Linked DNA regions of Homo sapiens. The protein of the gene in region 1 interacts with the protein of each later gene in a pairwise test. Each region holds a gene or a part of one and is shown on either strand. Other genes may lie near its edges.

Region 1 (7,531 bases):
CTCAGCCTCCCGAGTAGCTGGAATGACACACACGCGCCACCACACTCGGCTAATTTTTTTTTTTTTTAATAGAGATGGTGTTTCACCATGTTTGACAGTCTGGTCTCGAACTCCTGACCTCAAGTAATCCACTCACCTTGGCCTCCCAAAGTGCTGGGATTACAGGCATGAGACACGGCACCCAGCTGATCTTCCAAGTCTTAATATACAATGCATGCATGCATGCATGCATACACACTAGTAAATAATACATACACAGCAATACAGAATTATCATTACAAAGACAGCATCAAGCTACTGCAGCTGTATAGCCTTTTCTTTAAAATTCTTACATTATTTTAATTTCATTTCCAGGCTAATGCATATTCTTCTGCTCTATAATTTTAAAGTTTCCACAATGTTGTCTCTTATATAAAGGCAGTATCACTCGAGCAATGCCCCGTGGTTATTTTTAATCCAAATTTGCAGATGATGATCAAAGGATTAAAGAATGATTCATGTGGCTAAAGTTGCAGTTTGCTTGTTAAATATTTAGAAAGAAATAATGTCAAGGCCAGCCATGGTGGCTCATGCCTGTCATCCCAGCACTTTGGGAGGCAGAGGTGGGAGAATCACTTGAGGCCAGGATTTCAAGGTTGCAGCCAGTGATTGTGTCATAATTCCAGCGCACAAGACCAACCTGGGCGAACAGCAAGATGCCGTTTCTACAAAAAAAAAAAAAAATGCACAGCAGCCAGGGTGACAGAGCAAGACCTGGTCTCTAAAAAATTTAAAAGAGGCCGGGCGTGGTGGCTCACGCCTGTAATCCCAACACTTTGAGAGGCCGAGGCAGGTGGATCACGAGGTCAGGAGATCAAGACCATCCTGGCCAACATGGTGAAACCCCGTCTCTACTAAAAAAAAATAAAAAATAAAAAAAAAATTAGCCAGACGTGGTGGCGGGCACCTGTGGTCCCATTTACTCGGGAGGCTGAGGCAGGAGAACGGCATGAACCTGGGAGGCGGAGCTTGCAGTGAGCTGAGATCGCGCCAACGCACTCCAGCCTGGGCAACAGAGCAAGACTCAGTCTCAAAAAAAATAAATAAATTAAATAAAATAAAAAAACAGCAAATGCTCTCCTTGGATACTGAAGTCACTCTCTGAGGGATTCATGGGGGTTTTATAAGGATGAAATGTATCCTAGTGTTGGTGTATTGCTAGCGAATACTTAGTGCTTAATAAAATAACTAATATTTTGAAATTCCTTTGCTTGAGGAATTAGAGATGTGAAGAACAACAGATCAGAAAGCAAACTGCAAAATAAGGGATGTACAGCTGGGCGCGGTGGCTCACGCCTGTAATCCCATCACTTAGGAAGGCCGAGGTGGGCGGATCACCCGAAGTCAGGAGTTCGAGACCAGCCTGGGCAACATAATGAAACCCCGTCCCTACTAAAAACACAACACTTAGCCAGGCTTGATGGCAGGTGCCTGCAGTCCCAGCTACTCAGGAGGCTGAGGCAGGAGAATCACTTGAACCCAGGAGGCGGAGGTTGCAGTGAGCTGAGATCGCGCCAGTGCACTGCAGCCTGGTGACAGAGCGAGACTCTATCTCAAAAAAAAAAAGAAAAAGAAAAAGAAAAAAAGAAATTCCTTTGCTTGAGGAATGAGAGATTCGAAGAACAACTGATAAGAAAGCAAACTGCAAAATAAGGGAAGTAATTAATCCCCTCAAAAAGTCCACATTGGGGGCGGGCAGCTCATATCATGAGAGACTTTCAGACGAAATCAAGAGCAATGCCAGGAGTCCAACAGGGAGAAAAGAGAATTTGTAACCAAGCTCATTAATTCCAAAGCTTGATGAAACAGACAATTACCTAAAGGGAAAAGCTGTCTAAACTGACTCAGAAAGAGGTGGGAAACTTCAACAAGCAGTAGACGCCCAAGGAATTTTGAAAGCTGAGTTAGAATCGCTCTTCCGAAAATTCCTCAACCCATGCGGTTTTGAAGGTGAATCGTGGCGGTGTTTCAAAAGCAGACACTTTTAAAAATGCTAATTAGACGATTCTGCAATGTAAAGGGAGAAATAGAAAAGCTTCTCAAGGTTCTTTCTTTGTTTTGTAAACAAATTATTAAAACTTTAGTATCCCGACTTGAGATAGATAGGAAAGAAAGTAAATCTATAGCTCCCAGATACATATCACTTCAAAAGACCTCAAGGAGGACAGGCACGGTGGCTCACTACTGTATCCCAGCACTTCGGGAGACCGAGGCGGGCAGATTACTTGAGGTAGGTCAGGAGTTCGAGACCAGCTTGGCCAACATGGTGAAACCCTGTCTTTACTAAAAATACAAAAACTAGCCGGGCATGGTGGCGCACACCTGCAATCCCAGCTACTCAGGAGGCTGAGGCAGGAGAATCACTTGAACCCGGGAGGCAGAGGCTGCAGCGAGCCGAGATCACACCACGGCACTCCAGCCTGGTGATAGAGCTAGACTCCATCTCAAACAAACAAACAAAAAAACCCAAGGGAATGGCTGGGGCATGAAATCTTGCAGTGCTTAAGAAGTTAATGCATCACGACAACGAAGATCATTGCAGAAATGTGGGAGCTTTCAGCTGCTGGGTCTTAAAAACCAACACCCCAAAGTACGGTGCTTTGTCCTGCTGAACTGAAGAAGCCTCAAGATCTCTCTAACTTCCCCCTCCTGCTTCCTCTGTGTCTCCCGATGCACAGGATGAAGTTGTTCTCTGAAGTTTCCTGAAGTCTGGACATGTCAAAGAAGGAAAAATGACCAGTGTCCCCTTCCCTGAGTTTCTGAACCCACATCGCGGAGGAAAGACTGATGTCTGTCAACAGCCCTGCAGAGACTCCTCATAAACCACTGTCTGTTCTGAGGGTTCCACAGCCTCTGTCCCTGCAGAGACTCGTCATAAACCATTATCTGAGGCCAGGCGCAGTGGCTCACACCTATCATCCCAGCACTTTGGGAGCCCGAGGCGGGTGGATCACCTGAGGTCCAGAGTTCGTGACCAGCCTGGTCAGCGTGATGAAACCCCGTCTCTACTAAAAATACAAAATTAGCCAGGCGTGGTGTCACATGCCTGTAATCCCAGCTACTCGGGAAGCTGAGGCAGGAGAATCGCTTGAACCCAGGAGGCAGAGGTTGCACTGGGCAGAGGTCCCGCCACTGCACTCCACTCTGGGCAACACAGAACGAAACTCCGTCTCAAAAAAAACAAGCAAACAAACAACAATAACAAAAAACATTATCTGTTTTCGGGCCACTGTACATTGTTCAAACCCATTGACTTCTCTTTAAAATCATTTACTATTTGGAATCCTATATTCACCCCCAATTCCCCACTCCCCTTCCGCTAAGAAGAAGAGGACACAAGCGTCTGTACCCCTTTGTGTAATGGGGCAATTCCTCTGACATTCTCCTCCATGGATGAGAATACATTTGCCTGTCATTTCCTTTATTCATGTTTCAAAAAGGGCAATTGTATTTTGTGCGTTGATTTTTCAGCAAACCTTCAAATGGCAAAGGGGGATGTTTTTCCCTTGGCCCCTACCACAGCATCCCCAAACGGTCTCCAGCTCCTAAGAAGATTCATTTATGGGCACTACCTAGCTACACAGCGTCACCCACCGAGCTCGCACACAACCAAGGCTTTGGGGTGAGAATGTACAAATACATCACGGAATCCAAGCCCCCAACACCGCACACGCAGCCTGGAAGTGGTTGTGTCAGAGCTGTGTGAACCAGCGTGACTCCATCTTGAATAGGGGCTGGGTAACACGAGGCTGAGACCTGCTGGGCTGCATTCCCAGGCGGTTAAGGTATGCTAAGTCGCAGGATGAGATAAGAGGTTGCTACAAGGTACAGGTCATAAAAACCTTGCTGATACAACAGCTTGCAGTAAAGAAGCGGGCCAAAACCCACAAAAAGCAAAATGGCGACAAGAGTGACCTCCGGCTGTCGTGACGGCTACATTCCCACCAGCGCCAGGACAGTTACAAATGCCACGGCAATGTCAGGAAGTTACCCTCTACGGTCTAAAAAGGGGAGGCATGAATAATCCCCCCCTCGTTTAGCATATCATCAAGAAATCACCGTAAAAATGGCCAACCAGCGGCCGCCGGGGATGCTTTGTCTGCGGAGGAGCCATTCATTTACTCCTCTACCTTCTCAATAACTTGCTTCTCTTTCCACCACTGAGCCGTCCTGAATTCTTTCTTGCACGAGATCCAAGAACCCTCCCTTGGGGTCTGGACTGGGGACCCCCTTTCCTGTAGCATCTTCAGGTGCAGCCGTGAATCAGAGAAGCAGAAGGGGCTTACCTTGAAAAGCAACCAGCCGAGAAGCTTCTTCGCCAGACGGGTGGCCCAGAACACGTGCTTGTAGACGTCCGTGTTGACCACCCCGGGGTCCACCACGTTGGCGGTCACGTGGCTTCCCTCAGCCGCCAGCAGCCGCTGGAGGTGGTAGGTGAACAGGACAAGGGCCAGCTTGCTCTGGGCGTAGGCTGCGTGGGGTGAGTAGCAGGCACTGTGGGGCAAGCAGGAGAAGGTGTAAGAGGCTGACGGCGTTCACGCCTAAGTGCTTCATCCCAGCAGCATCTGTACCTGCGGCCACGGCCACGTCTATACGCAGCCACCTCCCCTAGACCCATGTGTGATCATGCCATCTGTTGGCCAGTTTTCCAACGCGTGTGGATTTTTCTAGTTCACCTTTTTATTATAAACTCATCCCTTAATTGTATTGGGGTCAGATATGTTAAATTATGTTACTAATTTTTTATTTATTTATTTATTTATTTTGGAGACAGAGTCCCCCCTCTGTCGCCCAGGCTGGAGTGCAGTGGTGCAATCTTGGCTCACTGCAACCTCCACCTGCCCGGTTCAAGTGATTCTCCTACCTCAGCCTCCCCAGTAGCTGGGACTACAGGTGCCCGCCACCACACCCTGCTAATTTTTTGTATTTTCAGCAAAGATGGAAGTTTTACCATGTTGGCCAGGCTGCTCTCGAACTCCTGACCTCAAATTATCCACCCGCTTCAGCCTCCCAAAGTGCTGGGATTACAGGCAGGAGCCACTATGCTCCCTGTTTTTTTTTTTTTTTTTTTTTTTTTTTTTTTTTTGAGACAGATTCTCACTCTGTCACCCAGGCTGCAGCCTCCCGGGTTCAAGCGAATCTCGTGCCTCAGCCTCCAGAGTAGCTGGGATTACAGGCTCCTGTCACCACGCCCGGCTAATTTTTTGTATTTTTAGTGGGAACAGGGTTTCACCATGTTGGCCAGGCTGGTCTTGAACTCCTGACCTCGGGTGATCCACCCTCCTTGGCCTCCCAAAGTGCTGGGATGACAGGCATGAGCCACCGCGCCTGGCCACATGTGGTCTTCTTGATGAGTCTCAAATCATAAAAGACAACCACACAAGCAATTTGGCAAACTTCCCAAGCTATCATAAATTTTCCTCACATCTACTGCAAGCTCTGTAGTGTGCTAAGCACATGTTAAACTCTTTGCACCTTGGTTCAAGCAGTTTAGAGAAATGTTTTAGTATCACAGGACATAGTGATAAAAATCGATCCGATAACCGCGGTAAAGTGAGTAACGTGCCTCTCTCTCTCTCTCTGGTAACCTCAATCACCAGAAACACAGAAAACTGGATGTTTCCAGCTTTGCTCCTGTAAATATGTTCTACTTTTTCTATGTATGCCTTAGAAACACTTTTTAAAGAGATGTTATTTGCGGTGTTACATAACGTCCCTTGAAGGCACACAACCACCATAGACTCCTTTTAGAATTTAATGCTAGGCACAGATCATTAGCCTTAGAATTGGCCTCATAGTTCTTTTCAATAAGACAAGGAGAAGTATTTGAGCAATAATGTTTTTCTTTCCTCTGGGGCTCCAAAGATGCCCAGAGGCGATCAATTTGCTACACAATTATCGTAACAACATTTCAAGGTGGCTGAAGGTTCATATCGCTTGCTTCTTTTATATATATATATATTTTTAAATTTTATTTTTATTTATTTATTTTTGAGACAGAGTCTTGCTCTGTCAACCCAGCTGGAGTACAGTGGCGTGATCTCGGCTCACTGCAAGCTCCTCCTCTCGGGTTCAAGTCATTCTCCTGCCTCAGCCTCCCAAGTAGCTGGGACTATAGGCGCCTGCCACCTGCCTGGCTAATTTTTTGTATTTTTAGTAGAGACGAGGTTTCACCATGTTAGCTAGGATGGTCTCGATCTCCTGACCACGTGATCTGCCCACCTCGGCCTCCCAAAGTGCTGGGATTACAGGCATGAGCCACTGTGCCCGGCCTAATTTTCTGAATTAACCACATGGTATATGTATCCTGATGGAAGCTGTGAACAGAAAATATCTGGGCACCCCAAAAGCGGGAAGCTCAAAGGAAAAGTCCAGCTGGAACCTGCTGAAGGCAAACCTGCCTCCCACTCTGTTCAAAGTCACCCCTGTGCTCACTGAGATAGATGCATATCTGATCACCTCCTTTGGGAAGGCTCATCACAAACCCAAAAGAATGTAACCATCTGTGTCTCACCTACCTGTGAGCTGGAAGCCCCCTCCCTGCTTCCAGTTGTCCCTGCTTTTCAAGGACTATACTTCTTATTTTTTTGAGACAGAGTTTTGCTCATATTGCCCAGGCTGGAGTGCAGTGGCACAATCTTGGCTCACTGCAACCTCTACCTCCTGGGTTCAAGCCATTCTCCTGCCTCAGCCTCCCGAGTAGCTGGGATTACCAGCGCCCGCCACCACGCCCGGCTAATTTTTTGTATTTTTAGTAGACATGGGGTTTCACCATGTTGGCCAGGCTGGTCTCGAACTCCTGACCTCAGGTGATCCGCCTGCCTCGGCCTCCCAAAGTGCTGGGATTACAGGCGTGAGCCACCGCACCCACCCCAACGTAGCTCTTACATATATTGATTGATGTCTCCTGTCTCCCTAAAATGTATAAAACCAAGCTATGGCCAGACGCAGTGGCTCATGCCTGTAATCTCAGCACTTTGGGAGGCCAAGGCGGGCGGATCACAAGGTCAGGAGTTTGAGACCAGGCTGGCCAACATGGTGAAACCCTGTCTCTACTAAAAAAAAAAATTAAAAAATTAGCCAGGCATGGTGGCATGTGCCTGTAGTCCCAGCTACTCCGGAGGCTGAGGCAGGATAATTGCTTGAACCTGGGAGGCAAAGGGTGCAGTGAGCTGAGATTGTACCACTGCACTCCAGCCTGGGCAAGAGAGTGAGACTCCATCTCAAAAAAAACAAAAAAACAAAAAAACACACAAACAAAAAAAAAACAAGCTGTGACCTGACCACGTTGCACACGTCATCAGGACTTTCTGAGGCTATGTCACAGGCTCACGTCCTTAAATTTGGCAAAACAAACTCTAAATTAACTGAGACCTGTCTCAAATTTTCAGGGTTCACAAAGCCATCTCAGATATAGTTTGAATATCAGCATGATATTTATGCTAAAAAACTAAAGATAAGATCAAAAAGCCTAAAAGAATGTTTAACACAT
Region 2 (7,531 bases), on another chromosome or scaffold:
CCAAAGTTGATGGAACCCAGCAGCTGTCACTGGACGTTTGCCAGGAGGCAGGGCTAACGGCCTTGGTGCACATGATGGGCAGTTTGCCCGGAGCGGGCTGAAAAAGACAATGATATATAGTCTCGGGAGGGCGCAGCTTTAACTCTTCTACCTGGCGGTTTACAGAAGCCAGAGCTGAGCAGCTGTGATTGGCAGACACCCTCAGCTCCTCAGCCAAACCACACTTGGATGTTTATGGTGAGGGTGGGACTAAGAAATGGAACAGAAGCAGAGCTAAATCGCTTTGATTGGCTGTTCATCGAAGGGGCGGGGAAGACTTAACAACTGCTAGCTGCTTTGATTGGCTGCTTTGCTTAAGCACACAGTGCAGCAAAAATAATCACCTGTCAGTTATTGGAAGTTGGAGTGAAAAGTATAATAACCGTAATTGACAGCCTGTCGTGAAGGAGGCGGGGCTTAGTTCCTAGCCTGCTGACTGGGCAGGGAGGTAGGTTCTACTCAGGAGATGTTACTGCTGGGCGTGGCTTGCGGGGGCTCGGAAGTGATCGGAGCCACTGGGTCTAGTTTGGGGAAACCCGGGGGTGGGTACAATCCCATGCTGGGGGTCAGGGCCTGCAGATGCGCCAGGGCCCGAGTTCCGTTGAAGGTCACCTCACAGCCTGACTTGGCTAGGAGCCAGTTCTCCACCTCCGACCGGAGCCACCTGGAGGTCTCTGCAAGGGGAGAGGCAGGTGTTCTGAGGTCACACTGAGATCGGGGAAGATTCGAGGGAGCAGCAAGGAGGGGCGTAGGGCAAAGAACAGGAAGGGCCTGGGTTTGGGAGAAGCCTAGGAGTGATCTTGAGGCTTGGAGGGGAGCGGAACAAGGCCCAGGAGGGTCGAGAGGGCCAGAAGGCCCAGCTCTGGGGCTTTCGTCTGGGGACCAGTCAGGGGCTCTTGGGCAGGGAAGGTGGGGGCTCCTGTAGGCAAGGGGACCACCTGGAGCCCACACAGGGAGCGCGCAGGATCTCTTGTAGGGAGAGTGTCAGCTCAGGTAGAGGAAAGAATGACAGGAGGGGGCCGTGCCATGGAGCCAAGACTCCCAACCAGGCTGAGGTTAAGAAAGGGCTGTCACATCAGGCACCAAGATCGGAGTCTGGATTCGGAGGTCCTGTCTGCTGAGGGCCGGGGTCTCTTCGCAAACCCGTCAGGTTCACCCGTGGGAACTGGGGGTGGGGACGCATCTCGCTGGGGCGGGGCCTCGCGGGGGTGTGGCCCCTGGGGGCAGGGTCCCAGGGCCACGTCCTACCTTCGGGCGAGCCTTGAGTGCCCCCTGGCCGCCGGGCCAGGAAGCTGTGAGCCAGCAGCGCCTCCTTGGTGTGCTCGTCCTGCGCGCGCAGGGCCAGGGCGCTGAGCAGCTCCGAGTTGTTGGACGTACTGCGATAGTACAGCATGTGCGCCAGCTCCAACGCCTGCGCGCTGCGCCGCTGCCCGAACATCTGCAGGCGGGACAGCGCCCCGTGGGCTCAGTTCGGGGTGCGCCCCCACCCATACACAGCCCCCGGGGTCACCCCCGCTGGCACGGCCCACGCCGCTTACTCCCCTGAGGAGGCGGGGAGGTCCTACCCAGACCTCTTCAGTACGGGTCCCCAGAGCTCAGTCGAGGGATCTATTTGGGGATTTTTGGGGTCTGTCTTTTCTTTTTCTTTCTTTTTCTCTCTTTCTTTCTTTCTTTCTTTCTTTCTTTCTTTCTTTCTTTCTTTCTTTCTTTCTTTCTTTCTTTTTCTTTCTTTCTTTCGTTCTTTCTTTCTTTTCTTTCTTTCTCTTTCTTTCTTTTCTTTTCTTTCTTTCTTTTTCTTCCTTCCTTCCTTTCTTTCTTTTCTTTCCTTTTTTTTTTTTTTTCGACAGGGTCTCGCCCTGTAGCCCAGTCTGGAGTTCAGTGGCTATTCACAGGCAAACTCATAACGCACTGAAGCTTTGAACTCCCGGGCTCAAGCGATCCTCCCGCCTTGGCCTCCTAAGTAGCTGGGACTACAGGTGTGCGCCACCAAGCCCGATATTTTTTGTAGAGACGGGATTCTCCCTGTGTTGACCAGGCTGGTCTCAAACTCCCAGCCTGGAGTGATCCTCGCTCCTCAGCCTCCCATAGTGCTGGGGTTACAGGCGTGACCCAAGGCACCGGCTGGGGATCTGTATTTTTAACACACGTGCCCTCATTCCAGTGGCTCCAAGACCACCAGCCCCATCTGGCCTACAGTTTTCAGCAACCACTGCACTGGTTTGCTCATCTGAGCCATGTATTAATGGATTTACCCAAAGGTTTGCAGATGATAGGAGTTTTAGCTTTGAAAGATTTTGTTACAATACATCCTTATGTTTTAGAGACATAATAAAGTATTTCCAAATAAGTCTAGGTAGGATTTACTTCAAAATCATCCAATAGTAGGACAGTGGAGGTCTTCAGGGGAAATCTGATTAACTATTGCTAATTGTTGATGCTAGGTGCTGGCTAGTGGAGTTTATCATACTATCCTATTTCTGTGTTTGTTTGAACTTTTCTATAATGAAGGAAAAAATGGTTTAAAATATTAAACTGTAGGCCAAGTGCAGTGGCTCAGGCCTGTAATCCCAACGCTGAGAGGCCAAGGTGGGTGGATCACCTGAGCCCAGGAGTTCAAGACCAGCTTGGGCAACATGGCAAAAGCTTCATCTCTACAAAAAATTAAAATTAAAAAACAATAGCAGGCTGGGCTCAGTGGCTCACGCCTGTAATCCCAGCACTTTGGGAGGCCAAGGCAGGTGAATCACCTGAGGTTGGAAGTTCGAGACCAGCCTGACCAACATGGAGAAACCCGTCTCTACTAAAAATACAAAATTAGCCGGGCATGGTGGCTCATGCCTGTAATCCCAGCTACCCGGGAGGCTGAGGCAGGAGAATCGCTTGAACCTGGGAAGCAGAGGTTGCAGTGAGCCGAGATCATGCCATTGCACTCCAGCCTGGGCAACAAGAATGAAACTCTGCCTCAAAAAATAATAATAATAATAATTAGCTGGGTGTGATGGTGAGCACCTGTAGTCCCAGCTACTCATGAGGCTGAAGCAGGAGAATCACCTGAACCCAGGAGGCTGAGGCTACAGTGAGCCATGATCATACCACTGCACTCCAGGCTGGGCAACAGAGTGAGACCCTGTCTCAAAAAAAGAAAAAAGTTAAATTGTAAAGAGAAGAGGAGAGGGGAAGGATGTTGGGGGGAAGAACAGGTCTGGGCCCAGCTGTCTACTGGCTGCCCACTTCCCCACCGTTAGTCTCTTTGCTTGGACCCCTCTTCTCATCCTTGATATTGGTAAGGAGAAATGAGGGCATCAGTGCCCTCTGGGCTCCCACTGAAAAACTGTGCCCAGGCCAGATGCAGTGGCTGACACCTGTAATCCCTGCACTTTGGGAGGATGAGGAGGGCAGATCACTTGAGGTTAGGAGTTCGAGACCAACCTGGGCAACATGGTGAAACCCCATCTCTACTAAAAATACAAAAATTAGACCTGGCACGGTGGTTCATGCCTGTAATTCTAGCACTTTGGGAGGCCGAGACGGGCAGATCACTTGAGGTCAGGAGTTCGAAACCAGCCTGGCCAACATGGTGAAACCTTGTCTCTACTAAAAATACAAAAAAAAAAAATTAGTCAGGTATGGTGACAGGCACCTGTAATCCCAGCTACTTGGGAGGCTGAGGCAGGAGAGTCGCTTGAGCCCGGGAAGTGGAGGTTGCAGTGAGCCAGGATTGCGCCACTGCACTCCAGCCTGGGCAACAGAGTGGGACTCTGTCTCAAAAAAATAAATAAATAAAAATACAAAAATTAGTCAGGTGTGTGTCATGTGCCTGTAATTCCCGCTACTCAGGAGGCTGAGGCAAGAGAATCTCTTGAACCCGGGAGGCAGAAGTTGCAGTGAGCCGAGATCGTGCCACGGCACTTTAGCCTGGGCGACAGAGTGACACTGTGTCTCAAAAAAAAAAGCGGTCGGGCGCAGTAGCTCACGCCTGTAATCCCAGCACTTTGGGAGGCCGAGGCGGGTGGATCACGAGGTCAGAAGATCAAGACCACGAGGTCAGGAGATCGAGACCATCCTGGCTAACACGGTGAAACCCTGTATCTACTAAAAATACAAAAACAAAATTAGCTGGGCGTGGTGGTGGGTGCCTGTAGTCCCAGCTACTCAGGAGGCTGAGGCAGGAGAATGGCGTGAACCTGGGAGGCGGAGCTTGCAGTGAGCTGAGATCGCACCACTGCACTCCAGCCTGGGTGACAGAGCAAGACTCAGTCTCACAAAAAAAAAAAAGAAAAAAGAAAAAAAAGAAAACCTGTACCTGTACCCAGATTCCTCCATTCAGCCACAAAATGAGCTCAGGGCCACTGGACCCTGTAGCTGGCAGGCCTGGCTGCCTGACCCACTAAACCCTTACCGGCTGCCCCTGGTAAGACCTAAGTCCTCAGTCAGCACTGTCTGTACAACAATGCCAATGCCAGGGAGGGTTCAGGAAGTCAATACACGGTTAATAAAACATTGGGACAGCCGGGCGCGGTGGCTCACGCCTGTAATCCCAGCACTTTGGGAGGCCGAGGCGGGCGGATCACGAGGTCAGGAGTTCAAGACCAGCCTGGCCAACATAGTGAAACCCCGTCTCTACTAAAAATACAAAAAATTAGCCAGGCATGGTGGCGGCGCCTGTAATCCCAGCCACTTGGGAGGCTGAGGCAGGAGAATGGCTTGAACCCAGGAGGCAGAGGTTGCAGTGAGCTGAGGTTGCACCACTGCACTCCAGCCTGGGGGACAGAGCGAGACTCCATCTCAAAAAAAGAAGAAAAAAAAAAAACATTGGGACAAAGCCTGGCCCCTCAGAAACACTTACCAAACATCAGCTACTATGGAACAGTCACCCACACCCTGTGCTGGGTGCCCATAGGGTGTTCCCATCTCACACCGAGGCCTGAGGTGAAATGCCTCTCAAGTCAGCGCACCCCAGAAAATCGCTGAAATGGCCTGCAAGGTACCAATGACACGCTTGCATGTGGACTGTACCCTCTTCTCACCAGGCCAGCACAGTCAGTTTAGGTGCCTGCATTGGAACGAATCGCCATTTCTTCGGTTGAGGGCAAGATGCAGGAATAGCATGCGTTAGGGACCGTGTGGTATGAAAAACACATTGGGTTTGTGTCAGTATCTGCCAAGCCGATGGAGCTGAATTCTAGTTAAAGGAGCAGGTCACTCTGTGGCACACAGATGAAGCCAGAGTCTCCCTGGAGAGGGGTCCCCCTGCCACCCGGAGGGTCCCTTCAGCACTACCGCTGCCCACAAGGAATACAGCACTCGCTCCTCCTACCCTGGGGTCTATGTCTTGGGCAGCCCCTCCACCTACTCAGTCACAGGCCAGGCCCCTGGCACCATCCTTGCTCCCCCTTCGCCAACCTGTCAGTCCCAACCCCATTCTGCAGTCCCCTGACTCTCTCTGCCCGTCTCCTCCTCTGCAGCTCCCCAGCTCATCCTTGGCTCAGACTTTATCCCCGCCTGCATCACTCCAGCCTCCTCCCTGGCCTCAGTCTCCCCGTCCAGTTTGTCTGCACATAGGTTCAGAGCTGCCCCTGCCCCTCCCCTGCTCATGGTCCTCCCATGGCTCCCCAGTGCTCTCAGAGTCCAAGCTCCGTGGCCCGGCACACGAGGCCCTCCCTGTCACCTCCTGCTCCTCCCCTGTGAATGCAGCGCATGCTGAAAAAGCCGGTTTACCCTGAACAGGTCCTGCTCTCTCAGGCCTCCAGGCCCAGGCACAAGCCAAACCACCCCTGGTGTGTTCTTGGAAAATGTTCACTGCCTCATCCTCAAGGCTCAGGATGGACATCACCTCTCGCGGACGAGCAGATGCAGCCTCGGGCTCCTGCTGTGCCAGCTGCCGCCTCCATTACAGACCGACTGCCTGTGTCCAGGGACCCCACACCTCTCCCTCCAGGGCAGGATCGGGCTGCTGCATCTCAGGGGCACCAGTTCAACATCCCTCCCCAGGCTGCCCCATGGGCCTGCTTGGTGCTGGGCTAAGGGGCTTCACAGTAGAGCCCAGGGTATGGAGGAACCCACAGGGGCACCACCCCAGCCTGGGACATCCGGGAAGGCTTCCCAGAGCAGGCAGCCTCTGAGCTGAGGGTGAGGGGTGAGCAGGGGTTGGCCAGCCCAACAAGAGGAAAGGGCATTTCAGTCCAAGGGAACAGCACAGGCAAAGGCAGAGAACGAGGGATGGCAGGGTGGGGGCGCCGCAAGCATGCAGGAGGAGCTGAGGCGCAGATTCGAGGGGAAGGATTGTGTCCAGTGAGGCTGGGAAGCAGGGTCCCTGGTGCCAGGCTGTGCCCAGAGGAGGGGCAGGGCAGGACTGGGTAGAATGGGGAATGGGCTGGAAGGGACCAACTGGAGGCTGGGAAGAGGGCCTGAGCAGGGGGCACAGAGGTGGGACAGGAAGGGTGGGCTGGGGGTCTAGCCAGTGACTGGCGGGATGACAGGTCATCCTTAGATGCGGAGCCCAGAAGAGAAGATGTCAGGGGAGACGCTGTGCTTGGCCTACAGTGAGAGTGAGGGCCCCAGCCGGGAGGCTGAGCCTGGAGCTTCTTGGTTGATCTGATCATGGACAGTAGAGAGCTCCTGTGGAAACCACAGAAGCAGAGCAGCCCTGTGTCTTGGAAGAAAGAGGGCCCCATACTCCGCATCCCGCACCTTGCTCCCCGCACCCCTTATCCCGCAGTGGGGCTCTGAGTGCCTGTTCCAAGGTGAGATGGGGAACTTGAGAGGAGCAGGAGGGTTGAGGCAGCTGGACTCTGGGCTCATGGGGACACGCTGCACATGGGCTTGGGTGTGTCCAGGGAACAGGAGAAGCCAGATTAGGGGACTAGGGGAGGGGCTTGCAATGAAGACAGAGATCTGGGAGCAACTGAAGCGCAGGAGGGGACCAGCCAGGAGGGAGTCTGGGAGGGCCAACTGTTTTTTTGTTTCTTTGTTTGTTTGTTTGTGTTGGGATGGGAGTCTCGCTCTGTCACCGAGGCTGGAATGCAGTGGCGCAATCTCAGCTCACTGCAACCTCCACCTCCCGAGTTCAAGTGATTCTCCTGCCTCAGCCTCTCAAGTAGCTGGGATTTCAGGCATGCGCCACCACGCCTGGCTAATTTTTGTATTTTTAGTAGAGATGGGGTTTCACTACGTTGGCCAGGCTGGTCTCGAACTCCTGACTGCATGTGATCTGCCTGCCTCAGCCTCCCAAAGTGCTGGGATTACAGGTATGAGCCACTGCACCCAGCCAAGGGCCCACATGTAAAGGCTGGGCCTCACCCCAAGGCGTGGGGAAATACCTCATGAATTCATGAATACACTAAATTAACTTGTCAACTGGGATTTTTTTTTTTTTTTTTTTTTTTGAGATGGAGTCTCACTGTGTCGCCCAGGCTGGAATACAGTGATGCCATCTCAGCTCACTGCAACCTCTGCCCCCTGGGTTCAAGTGATTCTCCTGCCTCAGCCTCCA

What was found. The genes of interacting proteins can lie anywhere in the genome.
Region 2: the proteins of DHRSX (region 1) and TMEM143 interact in binary tests that used the Homo sapiens proteins (3 or more experiments, as listed by UniProt).

Annotation. Positions count from the first base shown.
Region 1 is NC_000023.11:2,238,698-2,246,228, forward strand, and holds part of DHRSX (polyprenol dehydrogenase), read right to left. Parts: intron 4,534-7,531; coding exon 4,326-4,533; intron 1-4,325. UniProt on the Homo sapiens protein: Oxidoreductase that plays a key role in early steps of protein N-linked glycosylation by mediating two non-consecutive steps in dolichol biosynthesis.
Region 2 is NC_000019.10:48,332,721-48,340,251, forward strand, and holds part of TMEM143 (transmembrane protein 143), read right to left. Parts: intron 1,478-7,531; coding exon 1,288-1,477; intron 714-1,287; coding exon 499-713; 3' UTR 1-498.